Linked DNA regions of Homo sapiens. The protein of the gene in region 1 purifies or fractionates together with the protein of each later gene. This does not show direct contact. Each region holds a gene or a part of one and is shown on either strand. Other genes may lie near its edges.

Region 1 (2,999 bases):
CATGGTGGCAGGCGCCTATAGGTCTAGCTACTTGGGAGGTTGAGGCAGAAGAATCACTTGAACCCAGGAGGCGCAGGTTGCAGTGAGCCAAGATTGCAGCACTGCACTCCAGCCTGGACGACAGAGCGAGACTCTGTCTCAAACAAAAAAAAAGAAGAAGAAAATGTCTCTGTTAAGAAAATGTAAATTTGTCCTCTGAGAGACATAATTATGAAAATGAAAACTCAGTCACTCCTCAAAAGAGTATTTAGAATTTAGGTCCTAGACTTCAAATCTTTTAGAGTGATTAGAGATGCTTTTGTCCATGTCATTTTATAAATGAGTCCCTGGAATCTAAGAAAAGTTAAAGGACTTGCTAAAGGTCATACAGCTAATTGGTGGTAGAACCAAAATTAGAACACAGACTACAATTCTAGCCTACATCCCCCAACACTTCATACACATATGCAAATATTTTTACCTATGTAGTCAGATCCTGAGAACCATAATCATACTATTTAGAATCATGGCTGTATGCTATATAAAGTTGTTTTGTTAAAAATGGGTGTTTTTATTTGTTTGTTTGTTTTTTGAGACGGAGTCTCGCTCTGTCTCCCAAGCTAGAGTGCAGTGACATGATCTCGGCTCACTGCAACCTCTGCCTCCCGGGTTCAAGTGATTCTCCTGCCTCAGCCTCCCGAGTAGCTGGGATTACAGGTGCACACCACCATGCCCGGCTAACTTTTTTGTAATTTTAGCAGAGATGGGGTTTCACCATGTTGGCCAGGCTGGTCTCAAACTCCTGACCTCAAATGATCTGCCTGCCTTAGCTTCCCAAAGTGCTGGGATTACAGGTGTGAGTCACTGCGCCCAGCCTAAAAATCTTTATTGCAAGAATAAAGCTTCCATGATTATGGTTAAAAAGGGTTGTTTAACTAGCTGGCTTTAATCCATTAATACAGAGTGGTCTGTTATATTTATCTAATATTATATCTAAGCAGCTTTGTTGATGTCCCTGGAAGCAACTGCCCATATCATTATAAATTATATGTATCTCCTTTGAGATAAGTAAAACATAATCTTACAAAAGAGTAAACATTTTATTATTTGTACATGAATCAGTTTGGTCTGAGGATACACAAGCATCTGGCTAACTCATAAAAGTAGCCTGAAGTGATTGATAGGAGAGTGTTTGTAGTCATTTCCATTTGCTGCCACATCCCTTACATTATCTACTTGCTAAGCACTGAGAGGCCCAGAATGGACACATCAAACTGTCAGGAGGAACATATGGGACACTGGCACCTGCAATGGTTTTTTTAAAAGCAGAGAATGCAGAGCAGTCACAGACTCCACTTCAAAGCCAGGGTGTGTGGAGGTCTCCGGGGAAGAGCTCTGCACAACAGGTTTCCTGGGGGCCAGAGGGCCTCTCGGGGAGGAACAGAAAAAAACCAGCCAGGAGTGCTACCGACCAGCCTCAGCCAGAATGCTGTCAGAACAAGGCCCCAAACATGGCCTGGCCTCAGTGATCTGGGGATGAACGGTGTCACAAGGGAACCACCTGAAGGGTGGGCAGAGGCCCCCGTGGAGGAGCCACATACTCTTCCTCTCTCAGCAGCCGCAGCAGGATGTTTTTTTTATTCTTGGGCCAGCTGTAGACATGAGTGTTCTGAAGCCAGGTGGGCACATGCTCCTATGGGAGGCAGAATGACAGGAGCAAAGGTCATTAGAGAAAAACCTGGATGCCAGATCCCAGGCTCAGTTCCCAAACATTTCTGGCTTTCCCTACATGGGCGTTTCCTACCAAACTATCCTGGGAGTTGTGCTGTTTTGCTTTTGGAAAGGTTTAGCATGTGAAATGTTCTTGGCTTCGGGTACAAGCTGTATATCTCATTATAAAAACCACATGTGCACAGCATTTTCTGTCAGTCTCCCAGACTACCTACCCTTTGCATTTCAACTTGCTTTTCACCACCCTCACATAAAAGGGGTAGGACAGAGGTCACACAGAGTGATGTGAATTCCCCTGTGACTTCAGAAGAAGTATGCCAGGGCCGTAGGCTTAAATCAATTCATTACTCTTTCACTCCAGCCCCAGGTCTGGCCTGCAGTAGAAGGAGCCCATCAGACCTCAGTGATCAGGCAGAGGCAGAAACTGTTAGCCAGGGATCCTGGGGGTGCAGTGTCAGACTGCCCTCATGGAGTGGATGTTCTGGTGGGGAGAGGCAGATAATAAGTAAATGGATAGTGTGTTCAACAGTGATGTATGCTGTGGAGAAGAATTAAACAAGAAAGGGGACAGGGAGTGCTGGGGCAAGGGTGAAAGATTTGCAGTTTTAAACGGGGTGCTTAGGAGAGGTCTCACTGAGAAAATGAGCAAAGACCTAAAAGAGTGGAAGAAGCAAGCTCTGTGGTTGTCTGGGTCCAGGCAGATAGGAGAGTCAGTGCGAAGGCCCTGTGGAGGGAGTGTGTTGGGTCTGTTCACAAGCAACAAGGCCACTGTGAGTAGAGCAGAGTGAGTAGGTGCAGAGGTCTGGAAGTAGAAGGGGCTGTATCGGATAGTGCCCTGTAGGCCACCATAAGGCCTTTGCTTTTGAGTCTAACTCCTAGGGACTATAGGACGGGACTTCTCTAGGTATTGTGCTTAGAAGCAGCACCTGCTGCATGGCAGGCATCATACTGAGTACTGAGGATGCCCAAATGAAAAGGACGCAGGGACTGCCTTGAGGACTTCAAATCTTAGGATGAAAGCAAAATGTCAACAAATGATTTTCTAGTCAATGGTGTACCAAGGGGACAGGTGGTGAGAGCGGCCTGTGCTGGGCTCAGGTAATACGGGCATTGTCTGAAGGAGATTTAAAAATAATAACAAAACCAATGAAAATTTGGTCTATTTTGTATATCGCCATGCTCCAATAATTCTCAACAATTATTCCCAGTACCCTCAACCCAAACACATACCATTGACCCAAGGTGCTAGAATTAAGCACCCTTAAGAAAGGGACAATGAAATATATCAG
Region 2 (4,214 bases), on another chromosome or scaffold:
CTTCATATGCGTCACTAAATCGTTTCTTAAATTGTAAAGAAAGTAGTTCTTAATGTTTAAATCTGAATTTCTAAAAATCTACTACAATTAAGGTACTTTCAAATATTACATTATAATTAACAGCCCAATTAAATATAAGCCATTTTGCCATACGTGTTTAGTCCTTCGCTTTTGTCTCAATTTGACCTGAAGCCTGGATCAATTAGTCTGCACACTCAAGACGTACTCTGGGGCAAGAGGGACTAGGGAAAGATTCTTTTAAGATGGGATGATGCTGAGCAGGTTAGGCAGTTAGGAATGAATGCATATTCAAATAAGGCGCAATGAAGAAGAAATCTGCTTCCATGGGGAAATACGTTGCAATAAGATTTGAGGGAGGCCTTGAGCTGAGATTGTCAGGTAACCACACCTTCCACCCTTCAAACTCTATTCTCCCAGTGGAATCCAAACCAGTCTCCAGTTCCGGGTTCCCAACCAATCGCATCAAGCCACAACAGAGGGATCTGCCAACCCGGGCACCGCTTCAGGGATCTAGACCCAGTGAGAGTCACACAACCCCAGCACCTGTCGACCTCACACTCTTCCCAAATGGAGAGGGTGGGAAGGAACGCTAGGTCTATGCTTGGTCTTTTCCGATTCAAGCTACCACCAGGTCCACTAGCCCTCGAAACCGAAACCCCCGGACTTCGGGGAGAAGGGGAAGCTCCTACGCCGTGACTACGTATCAGTCCCTCAGGGCTAATTCTCCCATTCTCCCCCGACACTGGTTTCTCAGGCCTCGGGGACTCCGCGCCTGGAAGCCGACAGGCGAGAGTGAGGGCAGCGGGGGAGGGTGCACTCCAAAACACTGCAGGAAAAGACGGAAAAGCAGGGGCAGGAGTAGCAGTGTTCCCCCTGGGCGAGGGCCGGAGGCCGTTCGTGCGTTTGTCGATGGGTCTGTCATTCCCTCACTCACCAGGAGCAGAAGGGAGCATCTGAGGTCGGGTAAGGATAGGAAGACGGCAGGATGCATGGTAACGCTGGGGTCCGTGACAGGGACAGGCGCTGGCGGCTGGGACTGGGCTAGGTTGGGTTGGGTTAGGAAAGGGCTGGGCTCCGGGAGCCGACGGCAGCGGAGGATTCTCCAGGCAGCGGCACCTCGTCCTCTCGACCCGGGCTCCAGCGGCGAACACCCGGGACAACTTCCAGAGAGGCCTCTCACACCCTCACTTCCGGGTCCTGCCCACCTCGGTGCACTTCGGGAAATGTAGTCCTGCACTAGCCTCACCCCGCACGTCGTCCGTCATCTAGAACTTCCTTTCCCATTGGGCTCTCGGCCCCGGTCCACTGAGTCCTCTGCGCGCGGGGTCCTGTGGGATAGAAGGGCGGAGGGCGGGTGTACGCGGTGCTTCAGAGGATGGGAACTACAATTCCCAGAAGGATGTGCGGCCGAAAGCCTCGGGCGGCCTTTTGAGGGGCTCGGCTAGCTTCAGCGCCGTGGGGTCTGACCTGGCTGGATATAGTGTACCGGCCCGGCAGGAGGGGCGGCCCGGTCCGGGTTGCGCCTCCTGGAGCCGCCCCCGGGACGTCAGTCCTGGAGGAGGCGAGGGTGAGTAGGAGGGGGCCTGGCTGGGGAGGCTCAGATCATTCGGTCCGCACCGCCTTGGCCCCTGCTGCAGACTCACGGCCTTCCTGGCCTAGGCTGTGGCCTGAGCCTCCATCATTGGCCTCCTCGCCCGCTGCCTCTTCTTTCTGCTCTAATTCCTGCATTATAAAGTCAGAGCCACCACTCGGGGCCTCAGTTGAATGAGTCAATGACTTATCCCTGATTGTCTCTGAGGGCTCCTGTAAGGAGTAGATGTGGTACGGGATGGGATAGCACGTCGTAAACTGGAAAACTGTGTGAGTGATTGCTGCTAAGGCGTGGATCGCTCCTCCAGTATAATTACGAAATTCCCTAGCAAAGCAGTCGAGGATCCTAACTTGGCCCCAGGTAGCTCTGCGGCTTCTTCTGCAAACACTCAGTGAGGTCCAGGAGCCCACGCGATCTCTGCTTAGTACCCAGGAGGCACACTGTGCTTTTGTGGTTCTCCCTGCTCCCGCCTTTGCTTCAGCTTTCCTGCTGCCTGGAATGGCCTTACCCGTTCTCTCTCTGGAATGCTATCTTAAATGTCACCATCTCTGAGAACTTCCCGAACAACCAACCCTTTAGTCCTAATCAGAATTACTCTTCCTATGAGTGTGACTGCAGTACCTCTAGTTTTGTACGGTTATAATTATTAGAGCATTTATTACACGGGCTTGTTGTATAATTAGGCAAGGATGATGACACCTTTGCATTTTATAGCACTTTATCAAAGTGGTTTTGACTTTTTTCTATAAAAAATGATTTATTTTCTTAAAGGGGCAAAAAATACATTTTTTCTTAAGAAAAAAAAAGAGCCCTGCATAATGGCTTTCTCAGGGTGACAAAATTAGACAGTGATAGAGCCAATACTCTTACCAAGGCGGCCTAACTCCTAGACTAGTGCTCCTATCTCTTGTCCACGCCCCTGACAGAGCCCAAAGATAGTTGAAATGGGAAATTTTAAAAGAGCAGAGACTTGTAAGTATGAACTCATTATTCAAGAAATTAAACTTTGATCCTGCTCACTTTTTGGACTTAGCACTCAGCCTGTGACCTTTCATCCAACAAACATCTACTGAGTACTGGCTATATACCTGTTACTGTGCTAAGTGCTAAGAATTATGAAGTAAAAAGTATATATATATAATATATATAATATATGTACATATAATATATATAATATATGTATATATAATATATATATTATATATGTATATATAATATATATATTATATATGTACATATAATATATATATTATATATGTACATATAATATATATATTATATGTACATATAATATATATATTATATGTACATATAATATATATAATATATGTATATATAATATATATTATATATATAATATATGTATATATAATATATATAATATATGTATATATAATATATATATAATATATGTATATATAATATATATATTATATATGTATATATAATATATATTATATATGTATATATATTATATGTATATATATAATATATATAATATATATACATATATATTATATATATAATATATATTATATATATAATATATATGTATATATAATATATATATTATATGTATATATATTATATATATTATATATGTGTATATATAATTTATATATGTATAATATATACACACACACACATATATATAAAACAGAGATCACATTTTTAGTGTATTTTTCAAAGGGTATAAAGAACTTTTTTTGTGGTTCTGATGTGCCTAAAACTCTGATCACTTAGAATGAAAAATGACAGGTCTTAGAGTTTAGAACAGTGCCTAGCACATAGTTGTCACTCAGCTTGTTGAATGAACGAATGTGAACATGGTCTAACCTTATTATTTTTTGCATTTTACAGAAACCTAGAAAGCTGACATAGCCTGAGGACACACTGCTGATTATAAATACAACTGGGCCTAGAACCCAAGTGCAGTTACTCCCCTCCCATGTTTTCACCTCCACCTCTATTTTGTAGCTTCTCTCAAATAACCTTAATATAATCCTGGATATGACAGTAGTTCTTCTGACATGACTGTTAGACTCAGACATGACTGAAGTGTCTCACAACACCCTCTTCCTCCATATTTTCTGCCAGTCCTTAACTCAAATTGTCAGCAAAATAAAGACGTAAGGAGCTGTGCTTTACCATAATTAAGAAAGTATTAATATGTTCTCTCAAGGGCAGAATTTGAACCAATAATCCTTGTCGATGACAAGACAAATACCAGCTCATCCGTTATAAATTTATCTTAGAAAACTCTCAGATCCCCAGGAGTAACAGCGATTGGCGTGACCTGCTTTTTGGTGAAATCAGAAAAGGACTTGCCTACCCTCATGGCAGCAATTAACTGGAGCTGATTAACAGCTGCTCCCTTTAGATAAGTACATATGCTTGAGTTTACCGTGATTCTGTGACTCCCTACGTTTCTAACAGTTGTTACCTCTCTGGTCCTTGTAGGCATTCAGCTTTGGAACTTTGATAAAGCAGCTTAAGGGTTTAGGAAGGATGTTTAAGATCACTGATGCAACTATTCATCTTTCCTTCCCATCAGGTGTTTGAATTGTTGCTGCATTTCTCCAGCCTCTGCTTTCTTAAACAC
Region 3 (4,071 bases), on another chromosome or scaffold:
CATGAATTGATTATTCACTGCTGCCATTTGCATCAGTTTAAAAGCAGGACGGCTCTGAGGGCAGGTATTAAAGAAATAGAGGCCAGGCCCGGCGCCTCCTGCCTATAATCCCAGCCCTTCGGGGAGGACTGCCTGAGGCCAGGAGTTTGAGACTGGCCTGGGCAACATACCGAGACCCTGTCTTTAAAAAAAAAAAAAGGCCAGCCACGGTGGCTCACGCCTGTAATCCTAGCACTTTGGGAGGCTGAGGCGGGCGGATCACGAGGTCAGGAGATCGAGACCATCCTGGCTAATACGGTGACACCCCGTCTCTACTAAAAATACAAAAAAAATTAGCCGGGCGTGATGGCGGGCGCCTATAGTCCCAGCTACTCAGGAGGCTCAGGCAGGAGAATGGTGTGAACCCAGGAGGCGGAGCTTGAAGTGAGCCGAAATTGCGTCACTGCACTCCAGCCTAGGCGACAGAGCGAGACTCTGTCTCAAAAAAAAAAAAAAAAAAAAAATTAGCTGGGCAAGGTGGAGCACCTGTAGTCCCACCTACTCAGGAGGCTGAAGCAGAAAGATTGCTTGAGCCCAGGCTGCAATTAGCTGGGGACCCATCGTTGCACTCCAGCCTGCGTGATACAGCAAGACCCTGTCTCAAAAAAAACCAAAACACAAAACAAGGCCGGGCATGGTGGCTCATGCCTGTAATCCCAGCACTTTGGGAGGCCGAGCAGGGCGGATCACGAGGTCAGGAGATCGAGACCATCCTGGCCAACATGGTGAAATCCCGTCTCTACTAAAAATACAAAAATTAGCTGGCTGTGGTGGTGCGTGCCTGTAATCCCAGCTATTCGGGAGGCTGAGGCAGGAGAATCACTTGAACCAAGGAGTCGGAGGTTACAGTGAGGCGAGATCGCGCCACTGTACTCCAGCCTGGCGACAGAGCAAGACTCGTCTCAAAAAAAAAAAAAAAAAAAAAAAAAAAAAATCAAACAAACACAAAAAACCACCCAACTACAAATTAGGCATCCTCCCACTTGGTCTTTTTTCAGATTCATTTTGGCTTAATGGTGCCTTCCCCATTTTAAAAGCGGTCTTTTACTCATAGTGCCCCAGCCTTTTGAAGGCACAGGAACAGGAGCTGGGCTACCACCTTCAAGGGCTGTCAAAGATGGTGAGGTCTGAAGCCAAAGGCAAGCACACCAAACTCCATGGGGGCTGAATGCTGTGGTCTGTAGTGTCTGTGCTTCTGCAGAGTTAGCCTGGTCCCAGAAAGAGGGCATGTGCATGCTGGAGTGAAGAGCTGAATTTGATTTCCAAGCCCCTGGCTGGGGGTCCAGAGGGAGGGCAGGGGCCACCTCCTGCCGGCTCCCTGCTATTGTTGCTCAGGGCCGGCCGTCTTGGTGGTCACCAGTTCAGTGGAGCCCAGCTCTGTGGCTGGCACAGGGACACTGTGGCCAGGTGGGGTGGTTCCTGGGTCTTCCCCAGGAGGAGGCCAGGCAGGAGCTGTGGCATCAGAGATTCCCGGAGACAGAATGATGACCTTGTCCAGGGGCTCTGGGGCTGCAGGCAGAGGGGGTAGAGGCTCCGTACTCAGTCACAGCCTTCCCTCCCTCCCCTAGAAGACTCCTCTGGAGGGGCAGTCCTCCGTCAAATGAAGCCCAATGCAGGGTGGGGAGGGGTGGCACCTGGCTGACCCTGAGTCCAGAGGCCTGGCCAGTGGGGAGCTGGCAGGGCAGGGAGTTGGGGAGCTGGGGCTCAGTCTGGCAAACTCTTCAGGGATTTATGGGGGAACCAAGCTCCGTTAGACTCCCAAAGGGCAGGACAGACTCCTCCCTCAGACGGGGCCCCCTTCCTGCAACCTGTCTCTTCCTCACACTGGGGTCTGTCAGGGCAGAGCTGTTCCTGGCTCCGACCAGGGTCTCAGGGGCAGGACTATGTCTCCCTCCCCAGCCTGAGCTCCTCAGCGCAAACTCTTTTCCACTCTGTCTCCGTTTCCCCTTAAAGCCCTTCTCTCCCCCTCAGGGGCCATGCATCTCCCCCTAGACCGTCCCGACACCCCAGCCCCTGCGCCCCGCTCAGACTGGTTCCCCTACACACGGAACTCACCGTCCTTGTCTCCGTCGGGGGCCTCTGCGGAGGACGCGCCGCGAAGCCGCCGCTGTCGCCGCCTCCAGCTCACCAGACCCACCAGGACCAGCGCCAGGACCAGTGCCAGGCCCAGCAGCGCGGGGGCGCCAAAGAGCAGCCCGGGCAGGGGCAGCGCCGCCTCGCCGGCCCCCGCGCCCACCGACTCCTGCGGCTGCAGCGCCGTCCTGGGCGCAGGGCTGCTGGCCCCGGCTGCTTCGGGAGGGGACAGGGAGGGAGGCCAGGGGGCCGAGGGGAGGGAGGAGCGGGGACGGGGAGGGGCGGAGGGGGGCGAGGCTGGCCGGGGAGGGGAGGGACAGCCGGGGGGCGGTGGACAAGGGGAGGGAGAGAGGCGGCGGTGAGGGCCACGCGGTGATCGCGGGCCCCTCCAGGCCCTGCCCACAGGGTCCTTTCAGCCCTCGGCGCCCCCGGGGGTCGGGGCTCTGCCTGCGCCCTGGCGATCGGGGCCCCGTTCTCCCCGCAGCTGCCGGCGCCGCGCGCCCCGTGGGTCCCCCTTACCCGGTTTCGGCCGCGGCGTGCGCAGGAGCCCGCAGGCCACGCAGTGGCGGACCAGCAGGTCGAAGCACTCGGCCGGGACGCAGGGCGTGGGGGCTGGCGCGTCCCTGCCCCGCAGGCTCCGGGGCCCTCGCCTCATGGTGCCGACGCCGCCGCACAAGCTGCGGGGACTGAGGCTGAGCTGGGCTCCGGGGCCCTCGGGGAGGAAGCGGGGGGCGGGGGGAGCACTCTGCCCTGCCCCGCCCCCGCCTGCTGGGTGGGACCGAGCTCGCCTGGGGCCCCCCTTTCTTTTCTTTTTTTTTTTTTGAGACGGAGTCTCGCTCTGTCGCCCAGGCTGGAGTGCAATGGCGCTATCTCGGCTCACTGCAAGCTCTGCCTCCCGGGTTCAAACAATTCTCTGCCTCAGCCTCCCGAGTAGCTGAGATTGTAGGCGCCCACTGCCACGCCCGGCTAATTTTTGTATTTTTAGTAGAGACGGGGTTTCACCATCTTGGTCAGACTGGTTTTGAACTCCTGACCTCGTGATCCACCTGCCTCGGCCTCCCAAAGTGCTAGGATTACAGGCGTGAGCCACCGCACCCGGCCTGGCCTCTCTTTCTACCTGTGGTTCCCCAATTCAGCCCCTCAACCAGCACCGCCTGGGTGGGCCCTCTGCTGGGTGCTGGGAGGTGTCTGGGGGCAGACCAGAGCCTCCTCTTGGGTAGGGAGGGGGATGGACCCCGCAGCCAGGACACAGACCCTGAGTGGTTCCTCTGCTCCGTCTAGCCAAAGCCTCTCCATGACCCCGAGTGCTCCCCTGCCATCTCCCCCAACCCACCTGTCTCCTCCTCTCTTCCTGCCCTTCCTGGACAGAGCTGGTTGGGGATATCAGACACCTGCTTTTTTTTTTTTTTTTTTTGAAAAAGAGTCTGGCTCTGTGCAGTGGTGCAATCTCGGCTCACTGCAACCTCTGCCTCCCAGATTCAAGCGATTCTCCTGCCTCAGCCTCCCGAGTAACTGGGATTACAGGCATGCACCACCATGCCCGGCTAATTTTTGTATTTTTAGTAGAGGTGGGGTTTCACCATTTGGCCAGGCTGGTCTCGAACTCCTGACCTCAGGTGATCCGCCCTCCTCGGCCTCCCAAAGTGCTGGGATTATAGGTGTGAAGCCACAGTGCCCAGCCTGACATCAGACACTTGTACCAGGCCCAAGTAGCATGTGGGTCTGCCCTGAGGGAATCTCACACTTGTGCTGATGGGGGAAGACAGCCTCGCAGCAAGGGCACCAGCTCACGTCATCCTGGAAGGTGGGCCGGAAGGCTTCATGGAGAGGGCGATGGTGAAGTGTTTGCCAGATGGACTGAGGTCTAGGGAGCAGATGGGGGTGAAGGCCAAAGGGGAGCAAAGGCTTGGAGGCCCAAACAGGAAGTCCAGGGAGTGCTGGGACCGAAAGGCTGGACTG

What was found. The genes of interacting proteins can lie anywhere in the genome.
Region 2: the proteins of TRAF3IP2 (region 1) and INVS purify together in Homo sapiens (affinity purification with mass spectrometry; one large-scale study listed by BioGRID and IntAct). This does not show direct contact.
Region 3: the proteins of TRAF3IP2 (region 1) and TNFRSF13C purify together in Homo sapiens (affinity purification with western blotting, with the first as the bait; one study listed by BioGRID). This does not show direct contact.

Annotation. Positions count from the first base shown.
Region 1 is NC_000006.12:111,557,880-111,560,878, forward strand, and holds part of TRAF3IP2 (E3 ubiquitin ligase TRAF3IP2), read right to left. Parts: intron 1,673-2,999; coding exon 1,526-1,672; 3' UTR 1-1,525. UniProt on the Homo sapiens protein: E3 ubiquitin ligase that catalyzes 'Lys-63'-linked polyubiquitination of target protein, enhancing protein-protein interaction and cell signaling. Transfers ubiquitin from E2 ubiquitin-conjugating enzyme UBE2V1-UBE2N to substrate protein.
Region 2 is NC_000009.12:100,097,829-100,102,042, forward strand, and holds the start of INVS (inversin), read left to right. Parts: upstream 1-1,414; 5' UTR 1,415-1,588; intron 1,589-4,214. Other genes in the region: ERP44 (endoplasmic reticulum resident protein 44 precursor), read right to left, coding at 956-1,012. UniProt on the Homo sapiens protein: Required for normal renal development and establishment of left-right axis. Probably acts as a molecular switch between different Wnt signaling pathways.
Region 3 is NC_000022.11:41,924,007-41,928,077, forward strand, and holds the start of TNFRSF13C (tumor necrosis factor receptor superfamily member 13C), read right to left. Parts: upstream 2,801-4,071; 5' UTR 2,768-2,800; coding exon 2,632-2,767; intron 2,326-2,631; coding exon 2,095-2,325; intron 1,549-2,094; coding exon 1,361-1,548; 3' UTR 1-1,360. Other genes in the region: CENPM (centromere protein M), read right to left, coding at 3,799-3,976. UniProt on the Homo sapiens protein: B-cell receptor specific for TNFSF13B/TALL1/BAFF/BLyS. Promotes the survival of mature B-cells and the B-cell response.